Regions from separate parts of the Homo sapiens genome. Here all the other regions are linked to region 1. Evidence: fine-mapped expression QTL. A gene starts in region 1. Each other region holds a variant in brackets. All regions are shown on one strand. Distances are between the middles of the regions. Region 1 holds the start of ITPK1 (inositol-tetrakisphosphate 1-kinase). Region 2 overlaps ITPK1 (inositol-tetrakisphosphate 1-kinase). Region 3 overlaps ITPK1 (inositol-tetrakisphosphate 1-kinase).

Region 1 (5,000 bases):
TTTTTACTCCCTTAGCCGCCTTCTTTTTTTTTTTTTTTTTTTGAGACGGAGTCTCACTCTGTTGCCCAGGCTAGAGTGCAGTGGCACGATCTCAGCTCACTGCCAGCTCTGCCTCCCAGGTTCACGCCATTCTCCTGCCTTAGCCTCCCAAGTAGCTGGGACTACAGGCGCCCGCCACCACGCCCGGCTAATTTTTTGTATTTTTAGTAGAGACAGGGTTTCACCGTGTTAGCCAGGATGATCTCAATCTCCTGACCTCATGATGTGCCCACCTCGGCCTCCCAAAGTGCTGGGATTACAGGCATGAGCCACCATGCGCAGCCTCCCTTAGCCTTCTTTTATCCATCTTGTGCCTCGGCCCTAGGGGTCCTTGCTATGATCTTCCCTTTATCCAGCTTTCCATGTCCCCCCCAGGAGCCAGGCATTCTAAGCCACAGAGCTGACCCTGGAACCTGTCACCACTTACCTTCTAGGCTCCCATGGCCTATGAAACTCGCAGTACCCTTGCCTAAGGCATGCAGTGCCCGTCCCTAGCTGGCCCCCTGGAGGAGTCCTGTTTCCCACCCATCGTCTTTTCCACTCTCCATCCATCCGTTTTCTCTACCTTGTTAAAGAAAAAAACTAATCAGATTCTCGTTAAAGATGGCAGGGAAGCCAGGCGGGGTGGCTCAGGTCTACAATCCCAGCACTTTGGGAGGCCCAGGTGGGAGGACAGCTTGAGGCCAGGAGTTCGAGACCTGCCTGGGCAACACAGTGTAGTCCCAGCTGCTCGGGAGGCTGAGGTGGGAGGATCAGTTTAGCAGGGGTGTTCGAGGCTGCAGTGAGCTATGACTGCACCATTGCACTCCAGCCTGGGCAGCATAGAGAGATCCTTGTCTTTCTTTTTTTTTTGAGACGGAGTTTCTTAATGTAGGCCGGCCAGGGTGATCACATACCAAGCGTGGAGATATTCTTGACAGCAGGATTCTGGCTAAAACTGGACTAAGAAGGCCAAGGACAGAGCCCAAGGTCGGGGCCTGGTCAGAAAGAGGTCTCGGAGGAGCCTGACTCAAGTGTGATCAAGGGAAGTCTTGGTCACCCGCTGGCAACTTGGCTTTTTCTTGTCTCCCAGCCTCAATTCAAGCTCATCCCCCTTCCCTGCTCCATCAAAATCTCCTTGATTTCCAAGGCCAGCTTCAGTGTCTCCTCTCAAACTTTTCTGAGCCTTCCCTCCACGGGAATCCATTTTTCCTGCCTGGGCCTGGGGAGAGAAGTCCATTTCTCCTTCCCAAACCCAGAGACCATTGAGGCAGGAAAGCTCCCTGGCTGCCCCATAGGGCAGGGCAGGGTAGGCGGGGTTTAGTGACTCCCCGGCGCCGACGCTGACCCGCACCCCTGAGGAAGGGGTCTCCGGGGACGGCCGCTGTTGTCGCTGTCGCCTCCAGTCCCCGCCCCTTCCCCCCTCAGTGAAGGGGACCTAGAGTGAGAACTGGTGGTCACGTCCTACGCCTAGGAGGGCCCCTGGGTGTTCACCCACCCCCCCGGGGGGCCCCATCCTGGGCCAGGGTCCGCTTCCTCGAGGGAAGGGGCGAATTCCTGGAAGGTCTCCTTCCGGGCGCAGTTGCAATGGATTGCCTTGGGGGTGCTGAACCCTGCTGGGGGTACAGAGACGTTTCCGAAACTCAGCGGCTCGGTCGCCCCCAAAGGCCAGGCGGAACACACGCCCACACCGCGGCTCCCTTCCCGAAGTAAGACCGCCGGGCCACGGCCGCCCCCAGGAAGCCCCGCGCCCCGCACCCCACACCCGGGGACACAAACAGGCGCCGGGTAGCCGCGAGGGCCGGCGCGGCGCCTTTAAGAGGCGGCGGGCGGCGCTGCCCCCTGGCGGCCGCCCCGCCGCTTCCTCGCCGCCGCGGGCTCAAGCGGGGCGGCCGGGCCAGCGCGGGGCGGCGGCGGGCAGGGGCGGCGAGTGCGCGGGCGCTCGCCGCCGCCCTTCTCGGCGGGCAGCGCGCGAGGACCAGGCCGAGGAGGAAGTGGCGGCGGCGGCGGCGGGTGAGGATCTCTGGCCGGGCCGAGTGGCCGCGTGCGCCCCGCCGGGGTCCAAGCGCGCCCAGGGGTTACGGCCCGGCTGGGAACATCAGAGGGCGAGGACCCGGGCGGGAGGAGGAGGGAGGAAGGGCTCGGAGGCCGCGCTTCTGCCGCCGCCTGAGGGCGTGTGGCTCGGGCCCGCGCGGCGGGAGGGCGGGCAGGGCGGGGGCGGTGTCTGCGGAGGCCCGGCTTCCCCTCCTGCGGGCCCTGGCCCCAGCTCCGACTCAGACTCAGGCTCAGCCGTGCCCCAGCCTCAGCCGGCAGGCCGGGCGGCGCGGCGCTCGCGAGCCGGTGGGCGGGCGGGCGAGCCCGCAGGCGGCGGGGGCGTGGGCGGTGGCAGCTTGGCCCAGCCAGTGGCCTTCCGCGCTGAGCGCCGCTCCCTCCTCCCGGCCGCCCGCCGCGCCCCGCCCCGCTCCGCTCCGCGCGGCAGGACTGCGCGCCCCAGCTCCGATCCCCGTTCCGCGTCCCCGCCGCCGGGAGGAGGTGCCCACTCGCTCGCGGCGCGCGCCGGCCGCCAGACTCGGCCTGTGGGCGATTTCCTCCGGACCCAGGCTCCCCGCCCGAGGAGGAAGATGCAGACCTTTCTGAAAGGGAAGAGAGTTGGCTACTGGCTGAGCGAGAAGAAAATCAAGAAGCTGAATTTCCAGGCCTTCGCCGAGCTGTGCAGGTAAGGAGGGACGCGGCGCCGGCGCCCGGGGACCCCCGGCCCGAGCCCGGTGACCCCCGGCCCGAGCCCGGTGCAGCCTCATTAGTTGTTTTGGGAGATCGGAGCCAAACGGGAAGAAGCGGCGCGCGGGGAGACTGAGTCCGAGCAGCCAGGTGGCGGTGGCGGCCGCCGGCCGCGTTCCAGGGAAGCGGTGGCCGGTGCGGGCGAGGTGGCACGGACCGGGGCGTTCAGGTGCACTGTGACCCGGCTGGGGAGGCCCCCAGCAGCCCAGGGCGCGGTGGGAGTTCTACTGAGGGTTGCGGAGGGACCTGGGAAATCGGGGCATCCACGCTGTGGGGTAAGGGCTTGAGGGTACTTTTGGACCGGAGTGTTTTTCTTCCTTCGTCCCCTTCCCTTTCATGAAGAAAGGGCACCCACGTTTGTGGACCACCTACTATGTGCCCCGCGTGTGCTCGGCTCTTGAGGCTGTCATTGCATATCATGAGGTTAAGCCCAGTTGAAGCGAGTAGCAATTCTTGGCATGTATGTGGTGATTTGCTGTCTCATTAGAGCCTCGCAGCAGCCCTGCAAATTGGCCAGGGTGGTGATTCTGGGCCACCTGTCTGAGAACGGGGACCGATCGGCAGAGGAGCGGGGTACCTAGCTTGGGGTCCCGCAGCTAGGGAGTGGCTGGTGCGTAGAAAGTGCTGGGTAAATGCCCGTGGTGTGGAGTGGCCTTCTGCCATCTGGGCTGTGTGCCCCTGCTCCCACCATGCTGGTGCTCCTTGGCGGAGTCTCCGGTGTTTAACAGATCACGTTCTTAATAAATTACAGAACTACTGAGTCTTGGGTCAGGTAGGCCTTCCCTTGCTCCACAACTGTAGCTTTGCCTCTGAGAAGCAGTTAAGCCCTTTTCTCAATGCAAGCCTAAGAGAATCTAGCTCTGAAAGCCTTTTGCAAACTCCAGGTGGAAACCTTTTGTGATGCAGCTTGTTAGACTGATTTTTGAAAATGGGCTCTACTTGCATTTTTGTCCCTGTGGGGGCCCCACACATCTTGGAGAATTGAACAGTTGGGTTTCCGTAACCCCTGGTGCTCCTGGGGGCCCGTGGCTGGTCTGAGCTGGCATGCGCAGGTGAGCCTGGCAGCACCTCTGTGTGCCTCATGCCTTTCCCAAGGGCCTGCTGCTCCTTTGCCCCGTGCAAGCCCCGCAGGCGCTCTTCCTGCAGCCAGAGGGGCACAGCTTGTACAGGATAGTGCCTGGTTCTTTATCCCTTGGTCTGGGGATGGGGTTGGCTGCCTTCTCCCAGGCCGGTTTCCCTAGAAGACAGGCTCTTCATGATCAATAGGGCATGCAGAGTGGCCCCAGCAATTCATGAAGAAATCAGGAGGAGCTCGAAGCCAGAGCTTTGAAAATGAGTCTTAGGACCCTTGGAACATTACAAAAGGGTACTTGAACGTTGTACCGCGGATACACTCACTTGTGGGAAGGGCATTCTAAGACACTAAAGAAATTTGGAGCAGCTGCTTTGGCATGTTCTCGAAGTCCAGTTCTGATGTGAGGCACCGGAGCTCCCCCTGCAGTCATGTAAGACTTGGGAAATCCCAGCGAATACCTCGCACCCTTTGTACTGCTGTCTGTATTTATGTCATCTTGTGTCTGCAACTCAAGCTTGAGGCTTGTCATTGGGTTGGCTTGTTTTGCTTGGTAATTAGGAGGCTCTCGCAAAATATTCTTCGCCGAGACTCACAACTAGGTCCTCGTGCTGGACCTGCAGATTGGCTTGACCTTGTAGACATTCTTCCTTTAAAGGGGTGGGAGGTTCAGAGCAAGCTATGCTATCAACGTTCTGGGGAGTAGAGCATTACTTTCTCTGAAAGAGTTGTTGTCTTCAAAGTCTAGTTGCCTTCCTTTGGCCAAAATATTGGCTTCAAAGAAGGCAGAAGTCATCAGGGCCATTCTAGAACCCGAGGAAGCCCACTTTGTGTTTTCACTAGGGAAGCTTTAGATATTTTATCACTTAAGCCTAAGAAGGAAAAGAAAACACCAAAGAGTTTTTCCGTTTCTTATTTATTACTTTCAGGGCAGTGCCCCCTGGTGGCCACATTTCTATACTGGCTGCAAAATGCTGCAACTGTTGAGCCAGTGACCAGGGAGCCCCGTGAGGTTGTTTTGTTTGGTGTGAGGGCCAATGAGACTTTAGTGGCTGAGAGACAGTGCAAAGGACATTATCATGTTTTCCACATTCAGAATCTGGGGGCGCAGGGCTTCTGTACTGACGACGGG
Region 2 (5,000 bases), 62 kb after region 1:
TTCACCTCCCTAGCCGTGACCTCACTGGGTGCCCCGGCTGCTCCTCCCGTCTGCTGGGTGCTCAGACCCCAGCCAGCGCTCAGGAAGGTCTGTGGAGTCATTGCCACTCCAGTCAGCTGGCTTCACAAGGCTGAGACTTGAGTCTGGACTTCTTCCAAGAGCCTGTACTCTCTGCCCGGGGAGTGGTAGGGACCGCTGGGCACCTTCAGTTTCTACCTGAGGCCTGACTGGCAGTTGGGGCTAGGACCGGATAAGGATGGGTCCTTGGACTTTGGAAAGGCGCTGTGGGAGGGAGGCATGGGAGGGGACAGCTGAGAGGAGTCCCGAGCTCATGCGCAGGTGAGTGCAGAAGTTCAGGTGGCATTTGTATGTCCCTTGAGTATCTGTTCTGGGCCAGGCAGCACCGAGGCTCGGGAGAGTCCCAGTAAACAAACCCCAAATCCCTCTGCCTTCGTGGAGCACTTGTGTCTAGGTTGAGAGACTGAAAACAGAAAGAAGTGTGGGTGGCGAGTGAGGTGGGGGAGGGGGACTGGGAGAAAAATGAAGGAGAGTAAGGGGCTGAGGGCTGGTGTGGGATTTGGGAACATGGCTTGGTTAAAGCTGAGGAGATGCTGACCCTTTGGCCCTGCAAATCCTCCATGGCATGTACCCAAGAGAAAGGAGGGCTGTGTCCACCAAAAGACACGTGTAGAATGAATGTTCCCAGCAGCAGCATTCCTGATGGCCTCAAAGAGGAGACAGCACGCATGCCCATTGGCTGTAGAATGGGTACGTACATGACCTGTGTTATCATCTGGCCATGGAGTTGTATCGAATACAGCAGTGAGAATGAACCATGGATGAGTCCCATAGGCATGAAACGTGGCCAAAGATGCCAGGTGCAGAGGCGTATTCAGTGTCTGATTCCATTTACATGAAGATCTTGACCAGGCCAAGCTACTCTCTGGGGACAGGAGGCAGGCTGGCGGTCACCTTTGGGGACAAGGTGCCGGGTGGGAATGTGAGGAGCCTGCTGGTGTCTTGCAACTGTCCTCTCCTCAGTCTTCCTCTTGGGTGCCAGTTTGTGAAATATTCAAGCTGTTCACTTATGGCATGTCCTTCCTTTCTTATGTTATACTTCAGTGAAAGGCTTATAAAAGAAAGAAACAGAAGGGGAAAAAAGCCATGAGAGGCAGAGAGAGTGCTGTTTTCTGTAATATATGCCCTTAGATTCTCTAGAACATTGGTTCTCAAGCCACCGTACATATCAGGACATGGCCACCGCCCCTCCTGAAGCTCTCCTTGCCAGGAGTGATGCAGGCTCCGAGGATGAACCACCTGGTGAGAAGCCAGTAGCCCCAGCGGCATCTTTCTTGCTCTTCACTGGACTGGAGCCTCTCTGTAATCAAGGGAGTACATGTTCTGTACCCCCTGGCCCAGTGTCTAGTTAGAATAGACAGTGAGCATTTACAGATTGAATGGTTTTTTGTTTTTTTCCCAATGGTTTTAGCTTGTCTTTGGGAATATAGGGTCTGTTTCTGGGCATGGAGAAACAGGGTTCCCTCCTGTGCTTTAAGTCTAACCTCCAAGCCAGAGAGGTGGTACTGGCAGGAGATAAGACCACCCGTTGTCTGGATGCTGTTTTCCATGCAGCAGACATGGGCTCCAGTTTCTGTCAATCAGTTTATTAAAACCTGCGTTTATTACTTGTTTGCCCTGTGCCAGGCACTGGGCTGTGTCTTAGTCCAGCCCCACAGTACCCTGTTTACAGATGACGTCAAAGCAGCTACACGTGGGTGACTGGCTCGGTTCACTTGCTAGAAGTGGGGACTCTACCTCTAAGTGGGGTGAATCCCAGGCTAGCACTTGACCCACTGACAGGGTGGAGGGGATGTGGGGAAAGAAGATGTTCAGTCAGGGTTGGATGCATGAAGTGCTGGGTGGGCTGCCAGGAAGTGCTTCTAAGCCTTTGCTCTTCGCTTCCTTCCCCGACCCCATCTCTCCCTACTTCAGTCTGACTTCCCTCCATCTAGAATCTTCCCAGATGACTCCACAACTGGGTAGTTTTACCTGCTGTTTCTGAAGCCTGGCTGTCCCGTCTACCTCCCAAACATCAGCCCAGGCTCCAGAGACTACTGGAATCACAGTCACCTGGGAGATTGATTTTTAATAGACTCTATTTTAGAGCAGTTTTGGGTTCACAGCAAAATTGAGAGGAAGGTGCAGAGACTTCCCGTATCTGCCCTACCCTGACACACATGCAGCCCCCCTTACTGTCAACATCCCACGCTAGCCTGGAACATTTGCTACAATCAGTGAACCTCCCTGGGTGCATCAGGATCACCTGAAGTCCCCAGTGTGCATAGGGCTCACTCTTGGTGTTGCACATTCTGTGGGTTTGGACACATGCATAGTGACCTGCATCTACCATTACCATACCATACAGAGCAGCTTCACTACCGTGAAAGTCCTCTGCACCGCCTGTTCTTTTTAAAGCACTTCTAAAAAGAAGTGCTGATGGGGTGGCATCAATTATATCCAGATCTCTGGGGCAGCTCTTGAGCACTGGCTGTCATGAGGCCCCCAGGACAACAGGCAGCCGGGAGAGGGGCGGGTGGGGAACCACTGGATTGAAGTAATGGTTCTCAAACT[G/T]GAGTGTGCACTGGAACCCCCAGGGAGCACATCTTCAAACAGGTGGCTGGCCCCATTCCCAGGGTCTCTGAACCAGTAGGTCTGAGGGGGCTGAGAATCCACATCTGTAACAGGTATCCAGGTGATGTTGACCCTGCTTGTGAGCCCCTCTGTCTGAGAACCACTGGTTTTTTTTTATTATTATTTTTTATTTTATTTTTATTTTTTATTATACTTTAAGTTTTAGGGTACATGTGCACAACATGCAGGTTTGTTACATATGTATACATGTGCCATGTTGGTGTGCTGCACCCATTAACTCGTCATTTAACATTAGGTATATCTCCTAATGCTATCCCTCCCCCTTCCCCCCTCCCCCCACCCCACAATAGGTCCTGGTGTGTGATGTTCCCCTTCCTGTGTCCATGTGGAGAACCACTGGTTTTAAACAGTGGTGACGAAAGGTGTGGTTGGGCCAGATGTGCCTGCTCAGAAAGCCACCAGAGCGCTTTCCAAGTCTTTGGGGCATCTGGGAGATTGTGCCCGGCCCCTTTCCCAGTTCTGAGTGAGGGACTGAACCCTGGGATGGGAGATGTAGGGCTGTTTCCTGTACCACCAGCCCCTTGGGGACCTGGGTTTGGAGGGAGGGTGGTGGTGCGGGCAGGTATTATATTGAATATAGAGTGAGCCAGAAGGCCGGTGAGGCTTGGGGGCGAACTTCCAGCCCACTGAGTCACTCTCAGGCCGTCTCTGGCCCCACTGAAGGATCTCCCGTCCCCCTACCCCACTGGGGGTTCCTTTGGCCCTCACAGAAGGACAGATAAGGCCCCCAGGGTAAGAACAACCCAGACCAGGCCTCCCTGGGTCAGAGAGTCAGCCAGGGCCTGGTATCGAGACTTAGACCTTGGAGAGCTTGGGATTATGGGAGAATCAGGCTGTTCTTCAGACAACAGGCCGCCCTAGATGCCTGGCGTCTGTTGTAATAAAAGACCTTTAGTGGAAACTAAGTCTGTTGCCTTTGGCCTCCTAGGAGCCCAGCAATAAAATCAGTGTAAATAGAGCTAACATTTGGGAGTGGTTTATAAAGCACTTGAAAAAAATCCCTCATATAAACCCAAAGACAGTCCTACAAGCTGCAGGGACAATTAATTATCCTACCTTTTGGATATGGAAATTGAAGTTGAGAAAGGTTAAATAACTTGCCCATGGTCACAGATCTTTTAAATGGCAGAGCTGGGATTTGGCCTGGGGACTCTGCCACCCAAATCTCTGTGCTTTCTGCTGTCTTATTCCCCTTCCACCACGTGGCCCCTCCAGGCAGAGATGAAGGCGCTCCCCTGGTGCAAGCTCCAGCTACAAAAGGGTGAAGATGGTGGTGCCCTCAGAGTGGAATGTGCTGGAATTTCTCACAACAGAGTTGTTCTTGAAATAGGTACTTATTCTTGGCATTTCTTAGCCAAAAACTGCAGAGGTGAGTACCCCATAGCCATAACAGTGGCAGGGATTAGGGAGTGAGTTAGCGTTACAATGGAAGGGCTTCCGCCCAATCTGCTGTCTTCCATTCCCCATGCTGAGACATTTGGAGGCACAGGGTGGTTTCCGGTCTCATTGAATTGGCTTTCACGCTTGGCTATGAGGCACCCCTAGGGGTTCCTTGAAGGGGTACCTGCTTTTCAAGGGGGATGAGTTGCTCACCACTCCCTTCACCTGAGCAGCTCTTTCTTTTTTTTTTTTTTCTTTTGAGACAGAGTTTCATCCATCACCCAGGCTGGAGTGCAGTGGCATGATCTGGACTCACTGCAATCTCCGCCTCCCAGGCTCAAGCGATTCCCCTGCCTCAGCCACCTGAATAGCTGGGATTACAGGCATGCGCCACCAAGCCTGCCTGGTTTTTGTATTTTTAGGAGAGACAGGGTTTCACTATGTTGCCCAGGCTGGTCTCAAACTCCTGAGTTCAAGCGATCCGCCCGCCTTGGCCTTCCAAAGTGCAGGGATTACAGGTGTGAGCCACCTTTCCCAGCCACTCTCTCTTGATCTGTGTTTGATCTGGGGTCTGCATGTTAGATTTCATTTCAGGAAAGACATTTGAGGTCAGAGAGAGTTTGAAAACCATGGTGTCTGGGGCAGAATCCTGGGATATTCAGCTCCCCCATGCCTGGGAAATTGAGGCATGTGTATGTGCAGAGAGCTGTGGGCCTGCCAGGTGCGTGATGACTGTTGGCTGTCAGGTCCTGGGGGTGGAGTGTGGCCATCACCGTTTGATTGGTTCCTTGTCCGTCAGGTGTCCTTCTGAGTGCCCAGGCAGGCCGGGCCCTGTGCTGAGCACTGGGCACATAGCTGAGAGCAAAACTGCCACATCCCGGTCCTTAAGGAGCTTCCAGTTTAGTGGG
Region 3 (5,000 bases), 52 kb after region 1:
GTCCCAGCATCTAGAACCATTTCTCTGCTCCAGAGTCTCAAGTTCTAGGTTATTTCTGGTTTGCTGTTACTAACAGTCCTGCCCTGGGTGTCTCTGGACCTAAATCTTTGGGGACCTAAGTCACATCTCAGGCTGTTTCATTGGGTTATGGTCTAGAAGTGACTTCAGGATTTTGTTGCTAAAGAAGAAGGGGAGAATGGGGGACAGGTTGGGCTGCAGCTAGTCAGCTGTGTCCAGCACACTTGGGCCCTGGACTTAGAACTGGACAGGTTACTTGCCCCCTCTAAGCCTCAGTTTATTCTTCTGTAAAATGGAAATAATAATGGACCCAGTCTCATAGAGTTCCAGGAGTGAGGTCATGCAGATAAGGAACAGCACAGAACCTGTTTACCTAGTTTGTCCTCAGAAGGAGCTGTTTGTGATTATTTACTGGTGCCACCTCCACCACCATCATTGTCATCCTCAGTGGCCCAGGGAAGCGTGAGTCTGAATGAGGTGTGTTGTGTAGTTAAATGATGCGATGGGTAGATGAGCCAAAATGAAAGGATCTCTTCTGTTTGATTTATTTTCATGAGTAAAAAAGCCAGAAATGTCTGTAGCATAAGTTATGTCTGTTTGGTTTGGCTAAAGCAGGGCTGACCAGGGATGAGTCTCCTGCTGTGAGTGAGTGAGGTCCCAGCTTGTCCTCTGGGGTTAGAGCAGATTTTGCTCTGGCTGGGGTGCATTTGGGGGCATGGGCTGATTTATGTTTTCCTTCTTTCTGGATCTCCCCAGGTCTAGCCATGATGGGGTGAAGGCATCACCCCCAGGGAGTGCTGACCCCTGACCCTAGCCCCATGACCCCCTCCCGTGCTAGTTCATTATGGGCAGGGGAGGTCCCAGGGATTCCCCGCACACTCATCGTGACTTTTCCAAAAGCTGTGTAAATCCAGAGTTGTAACTTGGCTCTGTCTTTCTCCTTCCCCTTGATCCACCCTCAGCTCAAGAACTCCCCTGGGAAGCACAGTGGCTCCCGTCTTTGCCTCAAGTTCTCTGATGTTCTGCACAAATGGTAGGCAGAGACAGCCCTTTCAGGGACCTGATTGCCCTGGTGTCTAGTTCTCCTTTCACAGGCCTGTTTTCCAGCTCGACTGTCAATCTGAGTCTTTCTCTTTTTGAGCTTTATGCAATGGCCTTAGAGTATACCCTATAAGGAGATCCCGGCTTGCTGGTGCCCGGCCCTGCAGCTGTGTCCCAGAAACTTGGCGGTGGTGCATGGGGCTCACTCAGCACTTCTACAGAAGCCGCCTGGGGTGGCTCCCAGGGTTCCGGTGGGAATGGGGTACAGAGGCCTGAGAGGGGGCTTTGATCAGGTGTCCTGGGGGAACATTTAGAGCTCCTGGATTCTCTGCAGGAAGGCCACCAGCAGCCAGGCATGATGGCCTGTGTCTGTAATCCCAACACTTTGAGAGGCCAAGGCAGGAGAATTGCTTGAAGCCTGGAGTTCAAGACCAGCCTGGGCGACATAGTGAGACCCCATCTCTACGAAAATTTTAATTTTTATTTTTTGAGATGGAGTCTCGCTCTGTCGCCCAGGCTGGAGTGCAGTGGCGCGACCTCGGCTCACTGCAAGCTCTGCCTCCCACGTTCACGCCATTCTTCTGCCTCAGCCTCCCAAGTAGCTGGGACTACAGGTGCCCGCCACCACGCCCGGCTAATTTTTTGTATTTTTGGTAGAGACAGGGTTTCACCATGTTAGCCAGGATGGTCTCAATCTCCTGACCTCGTGATCCACCCACCTTGGCCTCCCAAAGTGCTGGGATTACAGGTGTGAGCCACCATGCCCGGCCAATTTTTTTTTTTTAAAGGTCACCAGCCCTGTTGTCTGGGCAGTAAGCACCTAGTAGGATTGCTTCAGAGTTCTAGAATGCGCATGTAAAAATTCCAAAGTGCGTTTGGCGTCTGGGCTGGGCTTCTATGAGCAGCCCAGGCAGCAGCAGTGAGAACTCCTGTGTGTGCCTCGTCTACTGAGTGCCAGGGTTAGTGCCCCACTTGCCAGGTGAGAGGACTGAGGCTCACACAGGTGGGCTTGTCACAGCCTAGCATGTGAGCTGTGGAGCTGGGATTGGATTCTAGAGGTGTGATGGCATAGCCAGTGCCTCTTCTGCTCCGAAGACTGCCTGCCTGGTGAGAGTCCAGTGACTCCTCCCTAGTTCCAGCTCCATCCCTCCAAGGCTGTGCAGTCCTGGGTAGTGGCACAACCTCTCTGAGGCCCATCTACCAGATGGTGATGAGATGGATGATTGAGACGAGGGGAGGGCAAGTGAGAAGGCCTTCTAAAACTCAGGCCCTCGTAGGAGAAGCGTGGGTAGCCTGAGGTCAGGGACAGGGCTTAGTGTGCTGTGTGGGGCTGTGGGGAGTGGGAAGCTCACTGGTTTTCTGGCTCCTGAGATGACTCGAGGGGTCTTGTGAAGCTCACACCCCTGTCTCACTGGGCAGGAGTTTGGCCTCCACTGTGGGTCTCTGCCATCTCAGGTGGGTGGGGGACCAGGGGTCCCTGGGCAGGAGGGTGTGGGTCCTGGCTTGGAGGCAGACCTTGGCTCACTCCCTTCCTTGCCCAGGCAGTATTTTTGCCGCAGGCCCTGCCAAGTAGAAATAAGTTATTTACAGTGTTTTGACAGGATCATCGGCAGCCGGGATGGGCAAGGATGCCTTTGGGACTGAGCTAATGGCCAAGGAGTGGGGCTTGGAGAAGGGTCTGGCGTGGGAGAGAGATGGGAGATGGGGGTGGGGTGGGGGCGCACATTTACTGAACTTGTTAAATCTTGACAAATGCCAGGCCTGGCCCTCCCTTAAGCCAGGGCTTTGGGGCCTGGTGAGGGCAGGACTTGATGAGTTTTCCTGTCGACCAAATATTCCGCCGGATCGCTCAGGACCCTCGGTTATTTTTGCTGTCTGAGCCCTCAGTGCCTTCCTTTGTCCA[T/G]CAGGGACAAGGACCCCTGCCCACCCAGTATATCTTCTTGGGGAGAAGATGAAACGCCTTGGTGTATGGTAGGCCAGGCCCTGGCCTTGACTGTGAGCCTGGCAGCCCCTGCAGCCCCTCACACTGGGCCACCATTGACCTGCTTTACGACTTCAAATAGCACAGACCTGCCGTGGGACCAGGGCCTCCTGCTAGTGCCTGACCTCTGTCCTGCATGATGTTCTGACCCTCCAGAAGCAGGTTTGAAAGTGCCTTTCAGGAAGGTCTGGAGAGCCTCCTGTGTAGCTTGTGGGAACAAAATGTGTTACTCCCTAGCCGAAGGATAACCAGCACACTAAAATGTGAATAAAGTGTGACTTTATTCATGTCCTTTGAGCATAAAAATGGCACACACACTGATGCATTAAAAAAACTTTTTTTTTTAATTAAACTTTTTTTAGAGATGGGGTTTTGCTCTGTCACTCAGGCTGGAGTGTAGTGGTGCGATCATAGCTTGCTGCAGCTTTGAACTCCTGGGCTCAAGCAATCCTCCCACCTCAGCCTTCTTAGTAGCTGGGACCATGGTGTGCACCAACATCTTTGATGCAGTTTTTTTTTTGAGATGGAATCTCGCTCTGTCGCCCAGGCTGGAGTGCAATGGCTCGATCTTGGCTCGCTGCAACCTCCGCCTCCCAGGTTCAAGCGATTTTCCTGTCTCAGACCCCAGAGTAACTGAGATTACAGGCACGCGCCACCATGCCTGGCTAATTTTTGTATTTTTAGTAGTGATGGGGTTTCACCGTGTTGGCCAGGGTGGTCTTGAACTCCTGACCTCAAGTGATCTGCCCGCCTCGGCTTCTAAAAGTGTTGGGATTACAGGCGCGAGCCACCAGCCTTGACATAGTTGTAAACAAAGTTGTGGTTCTGTTGTAATCTGTTCCCACAAACACACTTAGCATTCTCTTAGAGCTTCCCCCTTTGTTAAATGTCTACTTAGGCTTGCTTTTTAAATGACTGCATAATATTATCTGATTGTAACTGAAGTTCTTTGATTCCCTTGGTTGATGCTGACCATGGTTCTGGTCTGTCACCTTTATAAATAGTATTGTGATAAACATCCACTTTTGATACTGTTTGGGCAAGCCTGTGATGATTATTTCTTTGGGTTACATAAGTAAGTTGTATATATTGTTTTTGTAGTCTGTAGGAGGAATATGTACTTCTTGGTGAAATAAACAAACCCCTGCATTTTGGGGAATTACAGAAAGGGAAGGTCTTGTGGGAGTTTGTGCTTCTAGATTTGAATGCTGTGTTATCACCTGTGCACCAGGCACGCATACAGCAACTCATTTCTCTCTCATGTGCCCTCCCTCCCCTCCTTTCTCACTCCTGCCCCAGACCCACTCTCTCTGCCCATGAGGCTGGGGGCTGTAGCCTAGCCGCAGCTGTGCCCATGGACTTTTCTCCCCTTGCAATTGTTCCTCACCCCAGGGAGAGGAGGAAGGAGTGGTGGGCTCTGGAGGAGGTGGGTGGTCCCCGGGTGGCCTCTGGTCTTGCTTCTTCCCAGCACCGAGGGTGCTTCAGCCTCCTTGCCTGGAAAAAGGGGTTGTCGTAACACCAACCTCTAAGGTTAAGAAGGGTAATTGAGATACAGTGTCAAAGTACTTATCACACAGCCTGGCCCCAGATCTGTGTTGAGGAATCTGCAGCTAGTGGTGGAGGGTTAGGAGTCATTTGGGGAATTGCAGTCCGGAAAGTTAATTTCTGAAGAGTATCAAACACCAGCTTGCATGTTAAGTTGTCTTTTGGAGTGATCCCTCCAGTGATTCCCTAGTGGTATGGAGCCAGTCCAGATTTGGAGTGGAACTTTTGTTGTGGGTGTGGGTCACTGTTCCAGGGAACCCCAGCTACCTGACCTTGAACCAAAATCCTTGTCATTGTGGAGCCTGTGTCCCCCTCTGCCTTGGACTTTTTTACTTTTATCTTCCTAGTTCTCATAATAGCTCTGTGAGATGGGATCTATTTATTATTCTCCCTATTTTGCAGATGAGGAAACTGA

What was found. PIP is the estimated chance that this variant, and not a neighbour inherited with it, causes the effect. A credible set is the group of variants that fine-mapping cannot tell apart.
Region 2: its variant is the best candidate, but not a certain one, in a credible set for the expression of ITPK1 in monocytes (Quach 2016, PIP 0.86).
Region 3: its variant is the best candidate, but not a certain one, in a credible set for the expression of ITPK1 in whole blood (INTERVAL, PIP 0.62).

Annotation. Positions count from the first base shown.
Region 1 is chr14:93,112,803-93,117,802 of GRCh38, reverse strand. It overlaps ITPK1 (inositol-tetrakisphosphate 1-kinase), which reads left to right and starts at 1,878. Exons shown (of 11, transcript NM_014216.6): 1 at 1,878-2,031; 2 at 2,498-2,734. The coding sequence starts at 2,640.
Region 2 is chr14:93,050,966-93,055,965 of GRCh38, reverse strand. All of the region lies in intron 3 of ITPK1 (inositol-tetrakisphosphate 1-kinase), which reads left to right. Among named protein-coding and RNA genes, the nearest start is that of ITPK1-AS1, 14 kb to the left of the region's middle. The variant G/T (reference allele first, on the strand shown) is at 2,632.
Region 3 is chr14:93,060,831-93,065,830 of GRCh38, reverse strand. The region is part of intron 3 of ITPK1 (inositol-tetrakisphosphate 1-kinase); the gene reads left to right. Among named protein-coding and RNA genes, the nearest start is that of ITPK1-AS1, 4.1 kb to the left of the region's middle. The variant T/G (reference allele first, on the strand shown) is at 2,963.